Regions from separate parts of the Homo sapiens genome. Here region 2 is linked to region 1. Evidence: fine-mapped expression QTL. A gene starts in region 1. The other region holds a variant in brackets. All regions are shown on one strand. Distances are from middle to middle. Region 1 holds the start of FAM20A (FAM20A golgi associated secretory pathway pseudokinase). Region 2 overlaps FAM20A (FAM20A golgi associated secretory pathway pseudokinase).

The links.
Region 2: its variant is fine-mapped to the expression of FAM20A in atrial appendage (GTEx, PIP above 0.99). The same link has a PIP of 0.9 or more in lung.

The regions. Positions count from the first base shown.
Region 1 is chr17:68,595,065-68,607,117 of GRCh38, reverse strand. It overlaps FAM20A (FAM20A golgi associated secretory pathway pseudokinase), which reads left to right and starts at 5,751. Exons shown (of 11, transcript NM_017565.4): 1 at 5,751-6,855. The coding sequence starts at 6,452.
Region 2 is chr17:68,573,829-68,585,881 of GRCh38, reverse strand. All of the region lies in intron 1 of FAM20A (FAM20A golgi associated secretory pathway pseudokinase), which reads left to right. Among named protein-coding and RNA genes, the nearest start is that of FAM20A, 22 kb to the left of the region's middle. The variant C/A (reference allele first, on the strand shown) is at 5,584.

The DNA.
Region 1 (12,053 bases):
TACCTCAGAATAAGGTGTTGAGTGCAATACTAAATCAGTTTCAGTTTCTTAAGTTCACTCCATTCTAGGTCTTCCATTTATAGTAATTTCAATTGCATCTCTTGCTGATTACTGAGACAGCTAGCAGGTAAAGGTAACATTCCTCACATGCATCTATACTATAATAAAAACTGTGAGGGACATAGATGTCTACATTTAGTTATTTCTTTATGTGTCTCTTACTTATTGGTTTTTCAATAGGATCAAGGCAATTTCCATTGATGTTCTAAGTAAACATCTACTGGGGCCAGGCACAGTGGCTCATGTCTGTAATCCCAACACTTTGGGAGGCTGAAACAGGCAGATAGCTTGAGCTCAGGAGTTGGAAACCAGCCTGAGCAACATGGTGAAATCCCATCTCTACCAAAAAAAAAAAAATTAGCCAGGCCTGATGGCATGAGCCTGTAGTCCCAGCTACTCAGGAGGCTGACAGGTGGGAGGATCACTTGAGGTCAGGAGTTCAAGGCTGCCATGAGCCAGATCACACTCTGCCACCCTGCACACCAGCCTGGATGACAGAGAAAAACCCTGTCTAAAGAAAAAAAAAACCATAACGGATGTTTAACTTAACACTTATGTAGATGTTCTAACTTAACACTTATCTTGAGCTAGATTATATACATTTATGTTCTTATTTTAAGTGCTCTTTTCCAAACCACTTCCCACCTCCATGTATGAACACACATAAACCCACAAACATCATTTATTCTGCAGGAATTTGTTAATTCTCATTTGCATGCCTTGCTGTGTCTAAGATCCTATGAAGACAGGAAAATAAAAAAGAAAACATGTTACCCTTGAACTCATGGAGTTATAGTCTAGTATAGAAAACTGCCTACACAAACAAAAAACAACTAGTCAAGTTCTAAGCAACACGGGAACATGGGCAAGATAAAAATAGAGTCTAACCTTCACAGATAGAGGAACTTGGTGTTTAAATGTTGACTCTATTGTTTTCATGATTTAACTCCTGCAAGTAGAGAGCTTGATATTTAGCTAGACTGAAAGGAAACACAACTGCCCTTTGCATTTGCTCCTCTTAATGCATGCAATGGCACAGATTGCTAATCTGCTCTGTGTACTACCTCATACTTTTTTCCCATTGGCTTGTGAGTACAGGTATAGCTGGACTCTCTGATGATCACAAGACTCTTGAAGGCAGGAAGGAATTGTGTCATATATTTCTTTATGTCTCCTACAGGGTCCAAAGCTATGTCATCTTATTGTAAACAATAATTTAGCCCCTACTGTATACTAGGCCATATGCGAGATTCTACAGTTGTAGAGATGGCCAATATCTCTGCCTTCACTCAGCAAACATTTCTTGAGCATTTCTCAAATGATAGGCCCCATCCTCAGAGCTCTGTGTACATATATAAGTAGCATTCTCCCTCTACACTCAGGAGTAGTGCTCCAGTGAAGATGGCAGACATGTGTACTGTGTAAATTTGCAATGGCTGCTGTAACAAAGTGCCACAAGCTGGGTGGCTTAAGCAACAGAAATTTATTGTCTCACAGTTCTAGAATTATAAATCCAAGGTCAAGGTGTCAGTAGAGTTGGACTCTTCTGAGGGCTGTGAGGGACAAATTTGTTCCATGCCTCTTACCTAGCTTCTTGTGTTTGCTGGCAGTCTTTGGTATTCCTTGGCTTATAGAAGAATTGCCCAATCTGTCTTTTATCTTCATAGGGCATTCTCCCTGTATGCATGTCTCTGTGTCCCAATTTCTCCTTTTTATAAGGACACAAGTCATATTGCATTAAGGGTCCACTCTACACTAGTACGCTATCAGCTTAACTAATTATTTCTACAACAACCCTATTTCCAAATAAGGTAACGTCCTGAAGTATTGGAGGTTAGGATTTCAACAAGTGAATTTGAGAGCAGGATATAGTCAACCCATAACACATACTAAAAAGGAAACCCAACATGGCCAACGTTGTAATAGGGGAACATATGAGGAGCTGTGGGGGCACATGAGAGCACAAGGCACTGAGTTTAATGGGTATGAAGACAAGCATCAGAGAAAAATTGGACAAGTGGCCAAAGCTTGGGTGGACTAATGGGTGTTTTCCAGGTGGGGAAAGGAGAAAGAGCTTTCGGTTAAAGACACATCTGTGAGAGGTTGTGTGGGGAAAAGCAAGAGAGATCAGATTGTTACTGTGTCTGTGTAGAAAGAAGTAGACATAGGAGACTCCATTTTGTTATGTACTAAGAAAAATTCTTCTGCCTTGAGATTCTGTGACCTTACCCCCAACCCCGTGCTCTCTGAAACATGTGCTGTGTCAACTCAGAGTTGAATGGATTAAGGGCGGTGCAAGATGTGGTTTGTTAAACAGATGCTTGAAGGCAGCATGCTCCTTAAGAGTCATCACCACTTCCTAATCTCAAGTACCCAGGGACACAAAAACTGCGGAAGGCCGCAGGGACCTCTGCCTAGGAAAGCCAGGTATTGTCCAAGGTTTCTCCCCATGTGAGAGTCTGAAATATGGCCTCGTGGGAAGGGAAAGACCTGACCGTCCCCCAGCCCGACACCCGTAAAGGGTCTGTGCTGAGGAGGATTAGTAAAAGAGGAAGGAATGTCTCTTGCAGTTGAGACAAGAGGAAGGCATCTGTCTCCTGCCTGTCCCTGGGCAATGGAATGTCTCGGTATAAAACCCGATTGTATGCTCCATCTACTGAGATAGGGAAAAACCGCCTTAGGGCTGGAGGTGGGACCTGCAGGCAGCAATACTGCTTTGTAAAGCATTGAGATGTTTATGTGTATGCATATCTAAAAGCACAGCACTTAATCCTTTACATTGTCTATGATGCAAAGACCTTTGTTAACGTGTTTGTCTGCTGACCCTCTCCCCACAATTGTCTTGTGACCCTGACACATCCCCCTCTTCGAGAAACACCCACAAATGATCAATAAATACTAAGGGAACTCAGAGGCTGGGGGGATCCTCCATATGCTGAATGCTGGTTCCCCGGGTCCCCTTATTTCTTTCTCTATACTTTGTCTCTGTGTCTTTTTCTTTCCTAAGTCTCTCGTTCCACCTTATGAGAAACACCCACAGGTGTGGAGGGGCAACCCACCCCTACAAGGTTGGAGCACTTGGGAATTGCAGAAAGTCTTGTGGGGTGAAGACGAAAGAGGGGGCATATAAAGAAGAAAGGAGGTAGAAGCCAGACCACGAAGAGCTGTGTCACAATGAGTGACCTAATCCAGCAACAAGGAGAAGCTCAGGGGGTTTTCAGGAGGAGAATATCCTGGTTGCCTCTGCATACTAGAAGTCTCACTCTGGCAAGAGTGTGTGTGGGCACTGAACTAAGGTACCATGGAAGCAGAGGGACCAGTTAGAAGCCTATTTGCAAGTATGAGCAAGAGATTATGAGGCTCTAGATACATCAAGATCAGTAGAGATGGAAAAGGAGGGAGGGGCTTCCAATGAAAGATTTTAAACAGAATGATGGGTCCCAGCAAACAGCAATTTAGGATACCTTCAGTGTGAACGGAGAGGATGTATGTGAGGCTGGCAAGTAAGCCAGGGCCCAAGACATGGAAGATCGGAGGAGCAGGAGAAGGCTCATTTCTAGGAGGGGTAAAGGTAGATTAGAGGCAAACCTGAGGAAGCCAACATCCTATTGGCCAATCCTACTGGTAGGATTTCCACTCTCCTATCCAGCTTCATTCACACTTAATATCTAACTCCCACATGCAGTTCTGCACTTGACTGTGACCTTTAAAGGGCATGGAAAATATGTTTACATAATTTCCAAGCAAGTTACACTATTGTTCCCTAAATTGGGGCCAGAAAAAAAAGAGTCTACTAAGCGAGTATGACCCCATGGGTTGAGGAGAATTGAAGTCACAAGACCTGCAGTGTCACCACATCCACGTCCTTTGCCAGCCGAGAAAAATGCGCATCAGTTTGCCACACAGTTACTGCAGTTACATCACCACCATTCAATGCCTGACTTCTTCATTCGCTTGCCATGACATCTAATTAAACACATTAGAAGTTGCAACGTCTCTCAGAAATTGGAAATCAGTTAAAATTTAATTCCAGATAAAAAGGAGGAGGTTCTAGAACCCCTCAAAATGCCCACCATCATACCCAGAGGAGTGGAGTAGCTGGGAATAGTACCGTCTTGGGCTTTTTCACTTGGACTGGGCACTCAGGCCACAATGTTATGCCCCTGAAAGCAGGTTCCTTCCTGCTATCTTCCTTTTCCATCCTTTTCTATTTTTGTCCTAGCGATGAGCAGTCTCTAACCAAGCCTAGTGTACTACAGGAACTAATAAGTAATCATAATGATAGCAAACACATATTTCACACTTATTTAGGATGAGTTAGGAGCTCTTCTAAGTAATTTATACATAGTCAAGTGCCACATAACATTTTAGTCAATGCAACAGTGGTCCCATAAGATTACAATACTGTATTTTTACTGTATGTTTCCTATGTTTAGACACACAAGTACTCACCACTGTGTTACAACTCCCTACAGCATTCAGTAGTCGCATGCTGTACAGGTTTGTACCTAGGATCAACAGGCTATGCCATGTAGCCTCCGTGTGTAGTAGGCTGAACCATCTAGGTTTGTGTAAGTACACCCTGATGTTCACACACACAGGAAAATTGCCTAAGGATGCATTTCTCAGACGTGACACATAATTGTACTTCAATTCATTTAAGTCTCATAATAACCTTAGGAGGTAGGTTCCATCATTATCTTCATTTACATTTGAGGAGACTGCAAAGTCCCGAAGAAATCTTACACTGAACCACGGGGAAAAGAACTCTGGTCTGAACCCACAAGTCAAAGTATGTCTGAGGGTTCTCAATTCCAGCAAGGGAAGGGAGGGGGTTAAAGAGTAGAACTAACTTACATGGGAAGCTTTGCTGCCTGGGCAAGCAGCTTCTGGTGGATTTCCTGAAATTCAGCAGGGTGGGGCCGCCTCTCCAATCAGACTTCACTTTACTATACTATGGGGTCATTAAATAGAGGAGCCAGGAGTTCAGGACTCCCTCCCTCTTCTTCAAAAGGAAAACTGGGTGTGGGGAGGGTACATTACCTCACAGAATATTGGAGAAAGCCTAAATGTGTCCTCCAGTGATTCATTTGGGTGGACTACTTTCACACCAAGCTAAACTCAAAAGTTCGGAGTGGGGTCATCAGGGCCCCTCCCTCCCTGAGTGCAAGAAACATTTCCTCTTTTTAAAGTACAGGCAGAGTTGGAATCAAACTCCTTCCAAACAGGAAATCAGCAAGATTCTAGGTAAAACTGATACCTTACTTTTAAAGGTCAAGCTCTTTCCTTCACCAAGAGCGTGTTTCCTGAGCACCTACTATGTGCCAGGCATGTGGTAGGTAGTTGTTATGAATCTTGATGTGCCCTGCGCTCTGCAGGGGGGCGGAGGTGGAAGGGAACACAAAGAAAGAACAGATACCAACACTGCCACCCCCGCCTCCCCCCACCCCCCCCCACACACTCATTTGGCAAAGCTTACAGGAAAAAAAGGGTTTTAGGGGGCTTGTGGTGGTTTTTTTTTCCCTAAAAATAATAGAAATGGTAAAAAGAGGCTTCGGACCCCTCGCGTGAGTCCCTTAAAGTGACTGGATTGAGACCTGGGCAGGGAAAGTGGGAGGCCCGAGCGAGGGGGAGGGCGCAGGCAGTGGGTGGGTGACAAGGTGCAAGGGCAGCGCCGGCTTCGGATCGGGAGTTGGCCGTCAGCTGCGCCAGAGGCAGGTGCCAGCGGAGAGTGGGTGGGGGTGCCGGCGCCAGGCCAGGCTCGGGGAGGCCCCGCGCTACCTCTGCCTCTAGGAGTCCAGGCGCACAGACAAGCTCCCCGGAGCCGCTCCTGCTTCGCCAACTCCCCACTCGCGCCGCCCGTGCCAGCCGCCGGCACTGGCGTCTCCGCCGCCCGCAGGAGGAGTCGCGGGAGCACTAGCAGCCGCCGCCGAGCGACAGCATCCTCAGGAGAGACGCCCCGGGCTTTGCAGCCGGCGGCCTCCGTCCGCCCTCCGCGGTCGCCCCCCGCCCCGTCGCCCGTCCGCCCGCGGTGGCAGCCGGCGCCGGCGCCCCGGGGCCCTTCACCTGCCGCGAGCGTCCGGGCGGGCGGGCGCACGGGAGAAAAGGCGCAAGAAGCGGGCACCCCGGGAACCCCATTCCCTCGGCTCACTCGGCGCGGAGAAGCGACGCCCGCTGACTCCGAGAGCCCCGGTGCTCCGTGCACCTGGTCCCCAAGTTGAGGAGCGACACCCCTCCACAGGGGACTAGCCCGCGCGGGGAGCATTCCGGTCTCACTGACCCCGGCCCACCCGCGGGACTCCAGGCACCTCTTCTGCCCGCACCCCGCGACCCCTCCCGGGACCCCGGAGACAGCCGGCCTGCCCCCGGCGTCCCCCTTGGCCAGCACGCCATGCCGGGGCTGCGCCGGGACCGCCTACTGACTCTGCTGCTGCTGGGCGCGCTGCTCTCCGCCGACCTCTACTTCCACCTCTGGCCCCAAGTACAGCGCCAGCTGCGGCCTCGGGAGCGCCCGCGGGGGTGCCCGTGCACCGGCCGCGCCTCCTCCCTGGCGCGGGACTCGGCCGCAGCTGCCTCGGACCCCGGCACGATCGTGCACAACTTTTCCCGAACCGAGCCCCGGACTGAACCGGCTGGCGGCAGCCACAGCGGGTCGAGCTCCAAGTTGCAGGCCCTCTTCGCCCACCCGCTGTACAACGTCCCGGAGGAGCCGCCTCTCCTGGGAGCCGAGGACTCGCTCCTGGCCAGCCAGGAGGCGCTGCGGTATTACCGGAGGAAGGTGGCCCGCTGGAACAGGTGAGGACCCCGCCCGGGACGCGGGAGAGCGGGCGCTCTGGCCGGGGCCTCCCCGCGCCCCAGTCTCGAGTTTCCTGACGCCCCCGGCCCAGGGCTGCAGCGGCTCCACCCACGGCTCCAGCCCTGGCGCTGGGCTTAGAGTGTGTTCCCCACCCGAACCCCACCAGCTGTTGCAGACCTCACAGTCCAGTCCCGGAGTCAGATAGTACGAGGAAAAAGTTTCTATTGCAGCCGCACAGCGAAGAAACGCTCTCAGCCCCTTCCCCTTGAGCGCCTGGGTCGTCGTTGAGCCCCACTCCTGCTCCCTCGTCCACTCCCGCTCCCTCGTCCGCTCCCAAACCCCACTCTCTGTCCTGATGTGGAGGAAAGCTGCCGCTGGACTTCGGGTTTCCAGAATGAGGCCCCAAACAGGGTGACTCCAGAGCTAGTTGAAATTCAGCACTTAACTGTGCTCTTTGGGTAAACCTGGGCGCCTTCCAGAAAGCATGTTTCTCCCCAAAACCCAGTTCTTTCCCTTTCCTTATTCCTCTGCCCAGTTTCAGAGATCACAAGGGGGTCATCTGAGGCAGGAAGTAAATGGTCAGTTCTCTGCCGCAGCCACCCCATTGTTCACATTTAAAACGCGGCTTGGGCCCATCCAGCAAGTATTAGAACTTGAAGGCACTTTTATCGTCTTGTATGATCCTGGTGATTTGGACTGACTTGGATCTGCGGCTTGATGCTTCCACAGACGAGAAAAAAATCTTTCAGGGAATTTTTTAAACCCAAAGCAAAATACAGAGGAAAAAATATCAAATATATTTAGGATAAAATTAAGAATCTTTCTGGAAAAGGATGGGGGTGTTAGGGAAGGCAGCACGCTCATTACTGAGATCCCTTGCTAGTGGCAGGAAGCCTTCGTATGAGTTAAGGACTCTGTTTTGAAGTACAGAACTTGTCTAAATACCACTCACATGCAGAGTTCACTATCGCACCACACCCATCTCTTTACTTAATACAAGAGATTTCAAAGTAAGATGTCATCGGTGGTTTTATGGTCCCTCCAGAGGATGAGCAGACCATAAATCTCTCTTGAAACTCAGAGCTGGGCCAATTTAACTGTTTGCTCATTATTTTGTAATGCTGAGATTGAAGGGAGAAAAAAAAACCTTCAGAAATTTTTGCAAAGGAATAAGTTGAGTTGTTGGCTGAATCACTGTGGTGAATTTCAGTAGTAACTCTACGGCTCACATTTTATGTTAGAAAGAAAGTGATTCTCAATTCCACGTTAACTGTGTGCAGTAATAAAAGGCAGTTTGAGATTGCTTCTCAGACACTGTCATTTTCAATATTATCTTTATTTCGTCAATAACATGGAAGTCTGGCTTAGTGAACCAGGAAATTTTGCCCTTAGAAAAAGTATCTATATGTCTACTATGGATCTGAGAATGAGAGACTTTGGACAAAGTCACTTGCTTTTGTAAATGTGATCAGCATTCATTTAGTCACATTTCTGTGGTCTTAAACTTCCCGGTGTTACTTTGGACCCGAAGCAAAGTCCAGGGGAATATTATGGCAGAAAAGCAAAAATCTTTCTCACCAAACTGTTCTACAATCAGTTTTAAGCTTGATTTCTACACCATTATGTGTCAACAAAGACAAAAAAAACTCGCAAAAACACACATACTTTCTGACCAGAAATGATCTTGGTCATTTAACAGAAGATCAAGTGGGGGCTGGTGACCTTACTATATTCAGAGATCACAGAGTAGTTTTGTGTGGTTGCTCAAATGTGACATTTTCCCAAGTAAGGTTTGTGGGCCACAACAGGAGGACCCGCTGCACTTATAAATGTTAAAACTGGACCTCAGAGGCAGAGAACACTCTCCTTCCACCCAAACTGGATAGTAAATGTTAACATGAACATATTAATAAGCAGATGTGTTGTTACTTATATCAGGGTTAAAAATGAAACACAAGGCCGGGCAGGGTGGCTCACACCTGTAATCGCAACATTTTGGGAGGCAGAGGCAGAGGGAGGATCACTTGAGCCCAGGAGTTCAAGATGAGCTTGGGCAACATAGTAAGATGTCGTCTCAAAAAACAAACAAAAAAAATAGCCAGTGGTGACACATACCTGTAGTCCTAGTCACTTGAGGGACTGAGACAGAAGGATTGCTTGAGCCCAGAAGGTTGAGGCTGCAGTGAGCCATGACTGTGCCACTGCACTCCAGCTTAGGTGACAGTGAAACCTTGCCTCAGAAAAAAAAAAAAAAAAAACCATACAGAAGATTCATTAGCCAGGGTGAATTTGAGCCACACTCAGAGTTCTATTGTGAAAGGGAGTCACTCATTACCTTAAATGAGAGTGCTCCCTGCCAAATATGAGGATGTAGCAGTGCTGATGAAGACAGGGGGCCTGCCATTATGTGCAGGGTCGAGGACACCCCTAGATCCTAGCAGCAGACAAATAAATAGAATGGACAGCAGAGGAAGAAACAATGAAGGACCTTGCTAATTGTTTTTCTCTTCACAGACAAGCTCTCCTTGTTTGTAGCCCTGCCAATATTTAAAATCTAGTGATTTATAAACATATGAGGGCCAGGCACAGTGGCTCACACTGGTAATCCCAGCACTTTGGGAGGCTGAGGCAGGCAGATCACCTGAGGTCAGGCGTTCAAGACCAAACTGGTCAACATGGTGAAATCCCATCTCTATTAAAAATACAAAAATTAGTTGGGCATGGTGGTGGGCACCTGTAATCCCAGCTACTCAGGAGGCTGCGGCAGAAGAATCACTTGAACCCAGGAGGTGGAAGTTGCAGTCAGCAGAGATCGTGCCACTCTACTCCAGCCTGGGCAACACAGTGAGATTCCATCTCAAAAAAAAAAAATGTGGATGCCTCCATGCCAATACCTAACATGAAGTCCTATCCAAAATAATTGTATCAGCAAACTGTCCACCACACCAGGAGAAGTACAGAGAATAAAATAAGCCAAATCAGTGTTCTTCGCCACTTGCCCACAAGAGACCATTAGTCTGAGTGATTTTTTTTTTTTTTTGTAATTTTGACCATCATACTAATAAGAAATGGTATGAAGTCAGAAAGTATCCTTCCACAATTCAAGCTCATTACCAATAAGAGGTAGGTTATGGTGTGTCTCCCCACCTCCCCACTCACCCACACGTTCCTTTTTGATTTCACACAATGGAAGATGACATTTGTGCAGTTTTGAATGTCTTGGGTTTTTAATTAATATTTGTTCACTGGATGTCAACATTTAGACATGTAGTTAAGTTACAAATGGGAAGATGTGTTGATTTTTAAGGTGGGCTGTCTGTGTGCTATCTGGCCCTGAAGCTTTCTGCAAACCTCCTTCACTCACTGTTCTTCCCTCCCTTCCTTTCTTTTCCCCCCAAAAATGTAACTAAGTGTGGCACAATCCAAGTTAAAAATGTAATTAGGGAAAGTGTTTCTGTCAGGTGGTCAGCTGCTGATCACAGCCAGCCAGCCAACGCCAGGCTCCATCAAGCATGATGACACATTTGGCACCTGTATTGAACAGTGACGAGGAAAGTGCACAGGGAAGAAGGGAAATGAAGTCTTCACTTTCAGGCCATACACTAACAAGCCAGAATTGTGCTGCTCTTAGTCCTTTGCTTGAATAAGTGATGACGCAGGGCAGGCAGGCTTTACCTGGAGCACAGGTGATGGTTCACACTGTTGCTCGCCTTTGCATTCTTAGATACTGAGCTTTGGATTTCTTCTCTGGCCCACAAGCTGCCCAAGTCAGACAACATCTGTCTTTTGACGTGTCAAACTGATCAGCTTGGCCAGTTTTGCCCACATATGATTGGCCTTTTGGCCACATATCTTTGGTCAGTCTCTCTGTAACCCTCTGGTCTCGACAGGCAAGGTCAAACAGGGTCAGCTCTCCCTAATGTAGAAACCCCAGCAGCTATAACACAAATATGAGTTTTTGCTTTTCTTTCTTGACATCTTCCTCAGATGTCAGGAAGGTTATATTGTCTTGCAATTACAGATTCAGCATTTCTTAGGGGTGTGTGTGTGTGTGTGTGTGGTTTCCCACATCAGAAACTCCTGTCTTCTTCACCCCTCCTCCTACCTATTGCTGTCACTGAAAGAAAACCTAGTCCTGGGTCTCTCTTTGAAAATCACCGCAAAGAGACTGGGCAGCTTTTCAAAAATGACAGTTGGTCAAAGGGAGTAAGTTGGCTGAAGTTTTTCTGGGGGATGCTTTGAGAAGATCCAGAAGCCAAGGCAGATAGAGGAGAAGGGTGGAGAAGAAGTCAGGAGAGATGAAAAGGAATTCAGCTAGAAATAAGAATTGCCTCGTCTAGGAGCTTGGGGAAGATAAGCTCCTCCCTGCCCCAGCTCCCCCATGGCATCTGTGGAAGGAAAAATACAATCTCTCCATTCTCACTCCCATCTTTTTATCTCTGTCCTGCTTATTTTGTGCCTGCCCTAGAACGCTCTGAACCTAGATTTCTTGTGAGCAGGCAATTCAACCCGCAGGCTGGATGAAAGTCCAGGTTCTTACTCATGGATGGTGGCCATTTGCTTCTCTCCCAGAGTCAACAGGGCCTTGGCCCCTTGTTAGATTCTCCCGCCAACAATGCTAAGCTAAGACAGGAAGTGGCCTCCTGTGATTTGGAAATGGACCTCAACCACGGCCCGTGTGTGGTTAGCAGAGAGAGTGGGGAGCCTGACTTCCATTTCCCATTTCTCCCAATTAGAGCCTTGCTGGACTAGTTTTGGAAAAGATATTATTTTAGTGGTTTCCAAATCCCTGAACTTGTAGTTGGAGGAAACCTCTCCACTCCTCTCAGAATCAAAAGCTTCAAGCAGATGGTTTCTGAGAGGGCTGGTCCAGACGGCCATTATCAGGTTTTTTCTCCCTCATTCCAAAGCCTGTCCTCACTGCTGTTGCCACAGCAAAAACCTAAATCAGGGAGAGCATCAGTGTCATTCATCCAAGAAAGACAGGCACTTCCTGCTTCCAAATAGATCAAAATGAAGCCCTTCAGCTGAGAACCAGAGGCTGTTCCATTGTTCCTAACAACACTCTTCTTTCACCACAACCAAGTTCTCATCAATCCTGAGAACCCAAGTGGCTAATTTTTTGCATGCAAATGCTCCTACCTAAAACATGCTTGTTATGTGCCAGGCACATTACATACACTTATTTTAAGCCTCA
Region 2 (12,053 bases), 21 kb after region 1:
CTAGCATTTTCCATCACATCCATAGGGGAATTACCCAGCAATGGCTCTCAGTGAGTCTCTCTGCTAGCACTGTGCCCCACAGCAAATTCCAAAGTCATGTCCCAGGCACCACCCCACCCATTCGCGATCGTGGTGATCAAGCCTGCTTTCTTGTCTCATCTCAGGAGAGAATTTAAATTGCTGAGGCTCCAGAGGAAAGGGCAGCAGGCACATTCTTTGGGCAGCCCTCCATGAACCTGGATTTTTTCAGCAGGGCTTTTCACTGACATTGAGTGGCAGTGCATTTAGGATAAAACTTTCAGAAACACTTTGAGTGCAGTTTTTCAGGGTTGTCATTCAGTACAGAAAAATAACACGTTTTGCCCATGTACCCTAGAACTTAAAGTATAATTTAAAAAAAGAAAAATTTACATAAAACCTAAAAAAAAAATAAATAAAGCCATGGTATTGGTGGAAAAACAAAAAAGAATGTGTTTGCACGGATGAAGAGAGTGCAATAATACACAATGAAGACTCGGAAGTGTGGGAGGCAGAGGGGTTGAATAGAGGGATATTAATAAACATAGTGTTTGTTATTTGAAAAAAAAAAGAAATAGATTTACCAATTAACTGAACTTAGAGGTAGGAACAAAAGGCTCTTTCTGAAGTCATGGAGTCAAACAGGATAGGCAAGTGAACTCAAAGCCACTGACCTCTGTCTACAGGGAAGCCACAGGTCTAAGGGCCAGCCTAGATTCCCTTCAGACAATACCTTTGAATCTGCTGTGACAGGCGAGCCAGCGGGTAATCAATACCTCAAAGCCACATGCCATGGAATGTGGCTGCAAAATGTTTGGCTGGAAAAATACTCCAAGAGACTGTAACCAAACACCTACCTTAGGTATTAAAAAACATCAATAAAGCAACCATTGAATGCCTAACTTTATCAGCGTAACTCACCAGTGGCCTCTCTGGGTTTAACTCACTGCAAAATGTACACCCCAAGTAACTGAATGAGACGACATTCTGTTCTGTTATTAGCTATAAAATCATTAAAAGGCAGGGGAAGTCAGCCAAATATGATGAGCTAGGATTTATAGCAGTTGGTCCGCAGCAGCTCTTTTTGGCAGTTGTGAAGACAGTGGTCTGTTAAGGCTGCTTGCAGTTTATGATATTAAAGCCATTTTATTTGCATATAAGAAAATGCTTCTTCCTCCCTCTCCTGGCAGGAGATGCTATGCCCAACTCATCCAGAAGTATTATTTACTCATTAAGGCATAAATTAAGCTGATGAACCAGAATGGTCAGGCTCTACTGAAGATGTGAAGATGATCAGCAGGCTGCTTCTTGTCCTTTGCGTCTACTTTCAAAACTGCCCACTCAGAGAGAACTTTCCTGTCCTGCTGACCCACAGGGGTCCCAGATGTTGTCCTTACCAAGCCCTGTTTTATTTTCAGCTGGGCTCTTAACACCACTTAATGCCTTTTTGTGTATTGATTTGCTTAGTGTATAGCCTCATTAGATCTTAAGCTTTTTGTGTTTGGGTTTTTTTTTTGTTTTGTTTTGTTTTGTTTTGTTTTGTTTTTGAGATGGAGTCTCACTCTGCCACCCAGGCTGGAATACAGTGGCACCATCTCAGCTCACTGCAACCTCCACCTCCTGGATTCAAGTGATTCTCCTGCCTCAGCCTCCCAAGTAGCTGGGATTACAGGCGTGTGCCACCACACCTGGCTAATTTTTGTATTTTTAGTAGAGGCAGGGTTTCACCGTGTTGGTCACGCTAGTCTCAAACTCCTGGCCTCAAGTGATCCACCTGCCTCGTCCTCCCAAAGTGCTGAGAATACAGGCGTGAGCCACCACACCCAGCCAGATCTTAAACTCTTCAAGGGTTGAATTGGTTTGAGTGGTGGCTCTATTTTGCATTCCCTAGGATGGCCCTTGAGGTAGGCCGAATAATGGCTCCCCAAATGATATTCATGTTCTAATCCCCAGAACCTGTGACTATCATCTTTTTTTTGAGATGGAGTCTCACTCTGTCACCCAGGCTGGTGTGCGGTGGCACGATCTCCACCTCCTGGTTCACGCCATTCTCCTGCCTCAGCCTCCCAAGTAGCTGGGACTACAGGCACGCACCACCACGCCCGGCTAACTTTTTCTGTTTTTAGTAGAGACAGGGTTTCACTGTGTCTCGATCTCCTGACCTCATGATCTGCCCGCCTTGGCCTCCCAAAGTGCTGCAATTACAGGCATGAGCCACCGCAACCAGCCAACTATCATCTTATGTGGTTAAAAAAAACAGGTCTTTACAGATATAATTAAGACTCTTGAGATGAGGAGATCATTCTGACTTATCCAGTGACCCCTAAGTTCCATGTCAAGTGTCCTTATATGAGGAATGCAGAAGGAGATTAGACACAGACGGAAGAGGAGAAGACAACGTGACCACAAAGGCCGAGAGTAGAGTGAGGTGGTCACAGGTTGAGGAACACCAATAGCCACCAGAAGACAGAAACAGCAAAGAAGGGGCTTTCTCCTAGAGTCCCCAGAAGGAGCACAGTCCTATTGCTACCTTGATTTCAAACTCTCAGACTCCAGAACTGAGAGAAGGAATTTTTTGTTATTTACGCCACTAAGTTTGTGGTAGTTTGTTAGGGCCCCAACAGAAAACTAATAGAAAGATGGAGGCTTCTTTGTGTCTTCATCATTGTAACCCAGGTATCTAAAATGCTGTTTGTATATAGTAGGCACTCAACAAATATTTGGTAAATGAATGGTTAAGAGAAACTTGGCAGTCAGGCAACTCTGGGTTTAAATCCTGGCACTAATCTCAGCACTTTCGGAGGCCGAGGTGGGCGGATCACGAGGTCAGGAGTTCAAGACCAGCCTGGCCAACATGGTGAAACCCTGTCTCTACTAAAAATACAAAAAAAAAAAAATCAGCTGGGCCTGGTGGTGTGTGCCTGTAATCCCAGCTACTCGGGAGGCTAAGGTAGGAGAATTGCTTGAACCAGAACCTGGGAGACGGAGGTTGCAGTGAGCCTAGATCATGCCACTACACTCCATCCAGCCTGGGCTACAGAGCGAGACTCTGTCTCAAAAAAAAAAAAAAAAAAAAAAAAAAATTAATCCTGGCTCTTCCACATAAGCGCTATGCAGGGCCAAGGCTCATTTCCTCCAAGCCTCAGTTTCCTGGTCTATAAAGTGGGATGTAATCTGGACCCCAAGAGGTGGCTGGGAAGATGGAGTCAGATCATGTACAGAACACACTGAGCAGGGTGCCTGGTTTCCTACAGCACTGATCCTCAAGCAGATAAAGGACCACTGCTAGTTGATTATGCTTTAATATTCCTTACAGGTTATTTGATACTTATCGATATGCAGCCTTATCCATTTATGTTTGATGTTTGGGTGGATGATGATGATGAAATGGCTTTTGTGGCCTCCTGTTGTCAGGGAAAGGCACCAGTGCTTCCAGCCCAGCCATCGCCCTCACTTGACTTAGCTGCCTCTCATGCTTCTAGCGAGAGAGAAAACACACATATTGATCTCTCCTCCATCACTTCGACGTCAATTACCTAATGCTTGCAAATGGGGAGAAAACACAGAACGCAATCAATCTACTTATTTTGGAAACTCTGCCCCCCTTCCCCTCCTACATGCACATACCCTTCTCAGTGCAAACTGCTGAGCCCATGTTTCTCAATGACTTTCCTTGAAGTGACAGGAATTCTGCTGATTCTAGGAACAACTCTTTTTCTTTTACTAAAGCATTTATTAAACTGGTTAAACAGGCTAATCTCTGCTCCCTGGAGACCTTCCCTTCAAACCGTGCCTCTGGTGAGTCGGTGACACTTTGATGGCAGGTGACACTTGTGCGGCACTTACTCTATGTTAAGCACAGTGCTGACCACTTCACCCACCACACATTTACTCCCTGCAACAACCCCATAAGCAGGTACAGTCCTTATCCTCATTTTCAGATGAAGAAAGTGGCTCAGACAGAGTATGTTACACAAGAAACTGGATTTTGGCTGGGCACAGTGGCTCCCACCTGTAATCCCAGCACTTTGGGAGGCCAAAGCAGGCAGATCACGAGGCCAGGAGATCGAGACCATCCTGGCCAACATGGTGAAACCCTGTCTCTACTAAAAATACAAAAATTAGCCGGGCATGGTGGTGCACACCTGTAGTCCCAGCTACTCAGGAGGCTGAGGCAAGACAATCGCTTAAACCCGGGAGGCGGAGGCTGCAGTGAGCAGAGATCACACCACTGAACTCCAGCCTGGGCAACAGAGTGAGACTCTGTCAAAAAAAAAAAAAAGGAAAAAAGAAAGAGAGAGAGAGGAAAGAAAGAAAGAAAAGAAAAGAAAGAAAGAGAAAGAAAGGAGAGAAAGAGAAAGAAGAAAGAAAGAAAAAGAAAGAAAGAAAGAAAGAAAGAAAGGAAAGAAAGAAAAGAAAAAAAGAAAAGAAAGAAAGAAAAGAGAAAAAGAAAGAAAGAAAGAAAGAAAGAAAGAAAGAAAGAAAGAAAGAAAGAAAGAAAGAAAGAAAGAAAAACTGCATTTCGGAGATACCTTTTCAACTCCAGAGCCGAAACTCAACACTGAGTTTAACTTTATTTCATGTCTGAGCCTGAGTCCTGGAAACCAATTTGAGAAGAGATTTGTGTCCAGGAGGCTTAGTGAGCCATGCTGTCACAGTACACCCCTTTGCATCAGGGCCCAGAGATTATCGAGGCAGAATTACTCCCAGTACCCTGCTCTGGAAGTATAGGTTGCTTTCTCTTTCTGGAGGGCAAGTTGGCAATAAGCATCAGACGTTTTAAAAGTTATCCAACTCATCCCTCCTTATGCACCATAGTTTTTTATTTTTATACAAAAGTTTTTTGGTCTTCCTAATCAGGGGGAAAAATCATTATTGGTGGAGTATCTTACACATATTCAGATGTCATACTCGGGTGTCATCGCAACGCTGCCTTGTACTAGCAGTGCCACCTTGGAGGTGTCATTTTTGCTGCCTATATCTGGTTCCCATATGTTTACAATGGTGGTAATAATAATAATACTGACCTTATGAGGAGTTTCTGTGGGGGTGAAATGAGTTAAAAGAGCAAAGTGCTTAAAACTGCCTGGCCCCATGTGAGTGCCACATAAGAGGTAGTTAGCTATTTTCCTCATTCACACTGTAGGCCCATTTTGGGACACTGGTTCCTCTTGAGTCTGATTTTTGCTCACCAAGGCAGAAGTCCAGGTGGTTTCCACCCTGGGACAATCCATGATATGCCCCTTCTCATTCAAGTCCCTTCCAGTTCGGGGCCACTCCAGCTCAGAAGCCCCATGCCCCTCTCTGGGCGGGTTTTACTTAAGTGCTGAGCCAGGGCTGTGGTTCTATGAGGTCAGGATAAGGTTAAGGACACAGTTAGCTGGAGTGGAAACAAGAGGTGCATTGCAACATAGCATAAAACCAGCTCCCAGAAGAGGAAGCAATTGTATTTTAACGAGAAAGGAATGAGTTTTTGTCGGGAAACCAGCCCATTTCGGGAAACCAGCCCATTTCGCAAAAATCTCAGTAAAATCTTGGTACAGTCATTGCTTTCTCAACAGCAAA[C/A]AGTTAATCAGGTTCTGTGTCTCCCCCCACCCACCACCACCATGATCTTTAAGAAGGCTCCAAGGAAATTCAAATTAAATTCTTGACAAAGCATTCGTTTCTCTGCAGCCACTGTGGAAGAGCAGAAAAAGCTCAGGTCACAACCCTGGCTTTTATTCCTCCTTTCCACTTATTATGTTGTTACTTCCACTTTGTGGACCTTAGTTTCTTTAAGAGCTTGAGGAGAGGAGAATAAGACAATAAATGGAAATAACCTAAAATGCCTTTATAATGAGATTTATGCAAATGCAAACTATTAATAGTATTAAATCAAAAGACACATCCTATGTTCAATAAGTACCAAGAGGCTGTGGCAGAGGCATTTTCTGCTCACCAAAGTCCACTTGTTCTCCCGTGTGTTCCAGCCCCCAGCAGTTAGTTGGGGTCATGTGACTAGTCCTGGACAATGGGTTATCAGTTGATGTGATCTGCGTCGCTTCCCAAAGCATTGAAGAGCCAGCACTTCATCTTCCAGTTCCTCTCTTTTCTTGCCCTGATGACTGTGAAGACCATTTGTTGGGATCTTGGTGTGTTCATCAAGCTGGGTCCCTGAGTCAGTGTGTGGAGCAGAATCCCTACTGACCTTCACGAGACAAGTAGCATGAGTGAGAAATAAGCTCTTGTTTTGAAAAGCCACTCCGATTTCAGGATTAAGCTGTTGCTCTAACAGAACCTACCCTACTCTCACTCAATAGGTAAATGAATTCAGATGGATTTTGCTCTACAAACTCAAAAATCAAAGTAACATAGCATTGGTTTATTTTTCAAAAGTCCAATCACTTTGGACTCTAGGCCCTCTTTTCTGTTTGGTTGGCTAGAAATTTAGTCTGAGTCATCACTGGAGCTCCTTACCCCAAGCCCCTCATGTTGGGTCAATGTCCTTAGGGTGTCTGGGAGCACATTTGAGGAGGACCCATAGTCCATGTTCCATCACCTGGTCTCGTGCAGGTGGGTGGCACTGTTGGTTCTGCATCAAGTTCAAGCACAGGATTATTGGCTGAGACTCGGTTTCTGGTGCCTAAAATGAGTCTTTCTCTGCACACACCTAACCGTTCCCCAGCACATTGGATCACCTCCAAGAAACAGGCCAGACACAGACCCCAGTCAACTCTCCTTTCCTAACCTTGGAGTCTCTTCATGCTTCCCCAAAATTCTGTGCTTCTTTATGCACTTTCACATTCTCTGTTAAATCCCCCTGCCTAGCAAATGCCTTCACTGAGCCTAGACATGTTTTTTTTTTTTTTTTGAAACAGAGTCTCGCTCTGTCACCAGGCTGGAGTGCAGTGGCGCGATCTCTGCTCATTGCAACCTCTGCCTCCCGGGTTCAAACAATTCTTCTACCTCAGCCTCCTGAATAGCTGGGACTACAGGCACCTGCCACCACGCCCAGTAATTTTTTTTTTTTTTTTTTTTTTTTTTTTGGTATTTTTAGTAGAGACAGGGTTTCACCATGTTCACCAGGATGGTCTCGATCTCTTGACCTTGTGATCCGCCTGCCTCGGCCTCCCAAAGTGCTGGGATTACAGGCATGAGCCACTGCACCTGGCCGAGCCTAGACATTTTTAAAAATCCAAGGAAGGAGTGAGAGAAGCCTGGCTACCTGTCTAAACTTCCCCTTGGTCCTGGATCCTAAAAACACTCTGAGGCAAGGAACACAAAGGCCCAGCTATCTTCTGAGAACAGGGGTGGGTAAAATTCCGGAAGAACAAAAAACACATTAATATCTCAATAAATTATCCTACCACATGGGTGACTGGTCATGCTGAGGAGGAAAGGAGGCCAACATTTGCTATCATTCTCTTGGTTTGCAAATCAGGTGGAAAAATAATACCACGCAAATTAGCACTAGCTCACAGGCCAAGGACTTGAAAGAATTTAATCTGAGTGAGCCACAAGGAAATTTGCTTATGAACCATGAAAATATGTGCCCCAGCCTAACCCCGTATTGTACCCACCTACATGCAGATTCCCCAACATTCAAATCCATCTCTCTTTCAAATGCCCATGCCTGTATGATAGGCAGTAAGGCAGAATTCAGACACTTTTGAAAATAAATATATTCTGGTAAACCTTTGATTATTAGAGGACCCAGGGGGTGGATTTTTAAAGCTCCTGCTTTGTCTTGGTTCTCTCAGAGTATTGCCTTTACACCACGTTTCTTCTTTTTGCATTCAGGAAAATGGTAGAGGAAAGAGAGGACACCTGTCTATCCAATGTCACTTGCTAATAGTGTGCGTGTGTGTGTGTGTGTGTGGTGTGTGAAATATATATTTATTTATTTTAGGATTACACAGTTGGAAGATTGAAAAGCACCACAATGATGACATTTAAATAAATCAATATTGCATCTTTTGCAACTAACACGTGTGTTAGTGTTTTATCAATATGCTTGTTAGGTTGGTAGAAGTCTGACAACTAAATGCTTGCTGACTCAAATTGGTTTTCTTTTTTTAAACAATTAAGTAACATTTTTAATTTTTGGCTGTGCAGAAGCTATAGAAGGAGTGGAGAGGCTCTGAGGAAGGCTTTTACGCGTCTATGGAAAATATTAAATTACACCGAGTGCAAAATCCATCAGAGCAATTTTCAGGCCATCATCAGAGGATTAAGTGCTTTATTTGCTCATTATTCTATGGCTCTAGCCCAGGATTTCTAACTCAGCATTACTGACATTTGGGGCCAGATCATTTTCTCTTGTGCAGAGCTGTCCTTTGCATTGGAGAATGTTTACAACAGCCCTCAGCACTCTCCCCACCAACTATGACAACCAAATATGTCTCCAAACATTGCCAAATGTCCCCTGAGGGGTAAAATCGCCCCCAGTGGCGAACCACTGGTCTACAGCAGGGAGGCAACAGTTCTGCAGAAAGGGAGATTCTGCAGCTGCAAGGCCCCTGTGCTGCGTGAATCATCACATCACAATTAGGTTGAGGAGCTCCGCAGTCCAGCTTTAATATTTCATGTTTCCCAAAATGTGTCATGTACCATGCAGAATAGAGGGGAATTGGTGTGTGCTACGTAAGGAAATGGTTTAAGAGATGTCCTCTGAGCAGGAGCCGTCATGGCAGGACTTCTGCAAGCCTTGACTGTCTTTCTGCACATGGTCACTCCCCTCAGAGTGGTCACCGTTGGCAGCTCTTTCTAAGTTTATTTGTGTGGAGCTAGATGTTTTGGATCTTAGCTCTATAGCCAAAACAAGAATCTGGGAAACTTGGCCCGGATAGAAGGCATCTGCTAGTTCCCTGACTGGACTCTGGGGACTCTTAGATGAGGGATCATTCTTTCATTCTTCTCCAGGGTGTCTGAAAGTTGTTGTGAGGGTAGATAAGCAGACTTTTTACTATAGACAGAGTCCCAGCTCCTAGAATGTCCCTCCTGGCCTGCCCTAGGCAACTAGCTCAGCCTGGGGCCATTTTGACTCAGAGCTGTTAGGCTATTCAAAATGAACAGGGCTGAGCAAAATCAACAGGGCAAGTCTAGCCACTTTGATAAAACCATTTAAAACAATCATATTTTGATTCCTAATTTTTTCTCAGATTTGCTCATCAGTTAAGCAAGTCGTTTTGTCCCTAGGTCCCCAACTACATGTAACTAACGTTTTCTGTAGTACCCACCACTAAGTGTCTGAAAGGTGTCTACAGCGAGGATCTCCCTGCCCAGACTGAGCACCCTCACAGCATTTATGGACTTACAGGTCTCTCTCCCTGGGGAGGAGGCTGGGACAGTCAGAAGGGAGCCTTGGGCTCAGGGCTGCAGCATGAGGAGCCAGGAGGTGCCAGATGGACCATGATGCAGTCAGCACGTAGGGTCATGATGAAGAGCTTGGCCTAGGAAGCCAGTCGGCCAGGTCCAAATCACTGCACTGTGCCTGCCACTCACCAGGCAGGTGACCTTGAGCTAGCTCAAGTCAGTCTCCTCATCTATAAAATGGGCTAACAATGGACCTGTCTTATGGGGCTGTTGTGAAGAGTCATGAGCCAGCACATGTGAAGTCTTCATAAAAGGTGCTGGCAGAGAGCCATGGCTCCAGAAATGGTGACAATTATTACATGTGAGGTGTGGGGGATTGAAGCAAAGAGTGCTTGAGGCAGGTATGGGGGCAGGGTCTAGAGAGCCAGAGAGGACCATGGCACTACGAATTTGGAGCTGGCTGAGCACTGGGCTTTTGTACTCTTATGGGAGCTTGTTCCATTGGCTGGCCAGACCCATTTAAAGGGCTCAGCATGCAGCCAAGTTTCAGAATTCGGGATGAGATGAAGAAGCAAGAACCTCTCTCCAGCCTAACACCATCCACTTCCCCAGGGTTAGCTCCTGGGCAAGGGAAAGGCCATTCTTAGGGGGCGCCCTTTGGACTTGGTTCTCAGAAACAGCAGTGCCTAAACATCACGCCCTGCCCGGTGGCAGCTGTAACTGCCAATGGCTGATTATGTGTGTGTGTGTGTGTGTGTGTGTGTGTGTGTGTGTGTGTATAATATAAAATATACAATATATAAAATATAAAATATATATAATATATAAAATATATAATATATAAAATATAAAATATATAATATATAATATATATAATATAAAATATAAAAATATAATATATAAATATAAAATATATATAAAATATAATATTCTATATTATATTTTATATATAATATAGAATATATTATATATAATGTATAAAATATAGAATATATTATATAATATATAAAATATATATTATATAATATATAAAATATATATTATATAATATATAAAATATATAATATCTAATATCTATAATATATAATATATAAAATATATTATATATAATATATAAAATATATAATATATAAAATATATAATATATATAAAGTGAAGACATATATATATAAAATATATATATATATGTAAAGTAAAGTGAACCTGTGTTGGCCAGGTTGGTCTTGAACTCTTGGCCTCAGGCAATCCTCCTGCCTTGGACTCTCAAAGTGCTAAGATTACAGGCATGAGCCACTGTGCCTGGCCTGCTTGTATATTTGTAAAAGCCACCAGAACACATTATTACAAACTGACTGGCCTAAAACAACATAAATTTATTGTCTTACATTTCTGGAGGCCAGAAGTCCAAGCTCAAGATGTATGCAAGGCTGTGTCCCCTCCTGAGGCTCTAGGCGAGAATCCATTTCTTATCTCTTTCAGCTTCTGGTGACTCCAGGAATTTCTTTTTTAAAAAAATATTGATACATAATAGTTGTACCTATCGACTAGTGGCCACCTCATGCCAGTCTCTGCCTCTGTGGTCACATTGCCTCATCCTCTTTTCTCTGTCTTCTTGTCTATGTGTCTGTTTTATAAGGGTTCTTGTAATTACATGTAGGGCCCACCCAAATAACCCAGGATCATCTCTCCATCTCAAGATTCTTACTTTAATCATATCTGCCAGCCCATCTGGACACATAGGGTATGTACAAGCCCAGAGATTAAGACGCAGATCTCTTTGGGGGCACCATTATTCAGCCTACCCCAGGGACCATCCTAGGGAATGCCAAATAGAGCTCTTGACTTCACCTTGGTAAGCAGAACTCAGGTAACTGGGAAATTAAGCAGAAGTTGGAAATAATTCTTCACAGTATTCCTTCCCCTTTGTAAAGGATAAAGTTACCAGTACTGAGTCCCAGAAGTCACAGTAACAATAACTCACATGATGTTACGGTTTGAATGCTTGTCTTCTCCAAAATTCATGTTAAAACTTAATCTCCAATGTGGCAATGTTGAGAAGTGGGGTCCTTAAGAGGTGATTGAGTTATGAGGGCTCTACTGTCATGAATGGATTAACTCATTTATGGATCCATGGATTAACAGATTAACGGGTTATCGTGGGAGTGGGTCTCATGGTGCTATAAGAAGAGGAAAGGAAACCGGAGCTAGCACACTCAGCCCCCTCGCCATGTGATGCCCTGCACCACCTCAGAACTCTGCAGAGGATCGCTTAGGCCTAGGAGTTTGAGACCAGCCTGGGCAACATAGGGAGATCCTGTCTCTATAAAAATAAACAAAATTAGCCGGGCATGGTGGCACACGCCTGTGGTCCCAGTTACTTGGGAGGCTGAGGTGGGAGGATCACTTGGGCCTAGAAGGTTGAGGCTGCAATGAGCCATGATAGCTCCACTGCAGTACAGCCTGAGTGACAGAGTGAGACCCTGTCTCAAAAAAAAGAACTCTAGAGAGAGTTCCCACCACCAAGAAGGGTCTCATCAGATATGCCCCTCAACCTTGGACTTCCCAGCCTCTAAAACTGTAAGAAATAAATGTGGTCAGGTGTGGTGGCTCACACCTGTAATCCTAGCACTTTGGGAGGCTGAGGCAGGCGGATCACCTGAGGTCAGAAGTTCAAGACCAGCCTGGCCAACATGGTGAAACTCTGTGTCTACTAAAAATACCAAAAAAATTAGCTGGGCTGG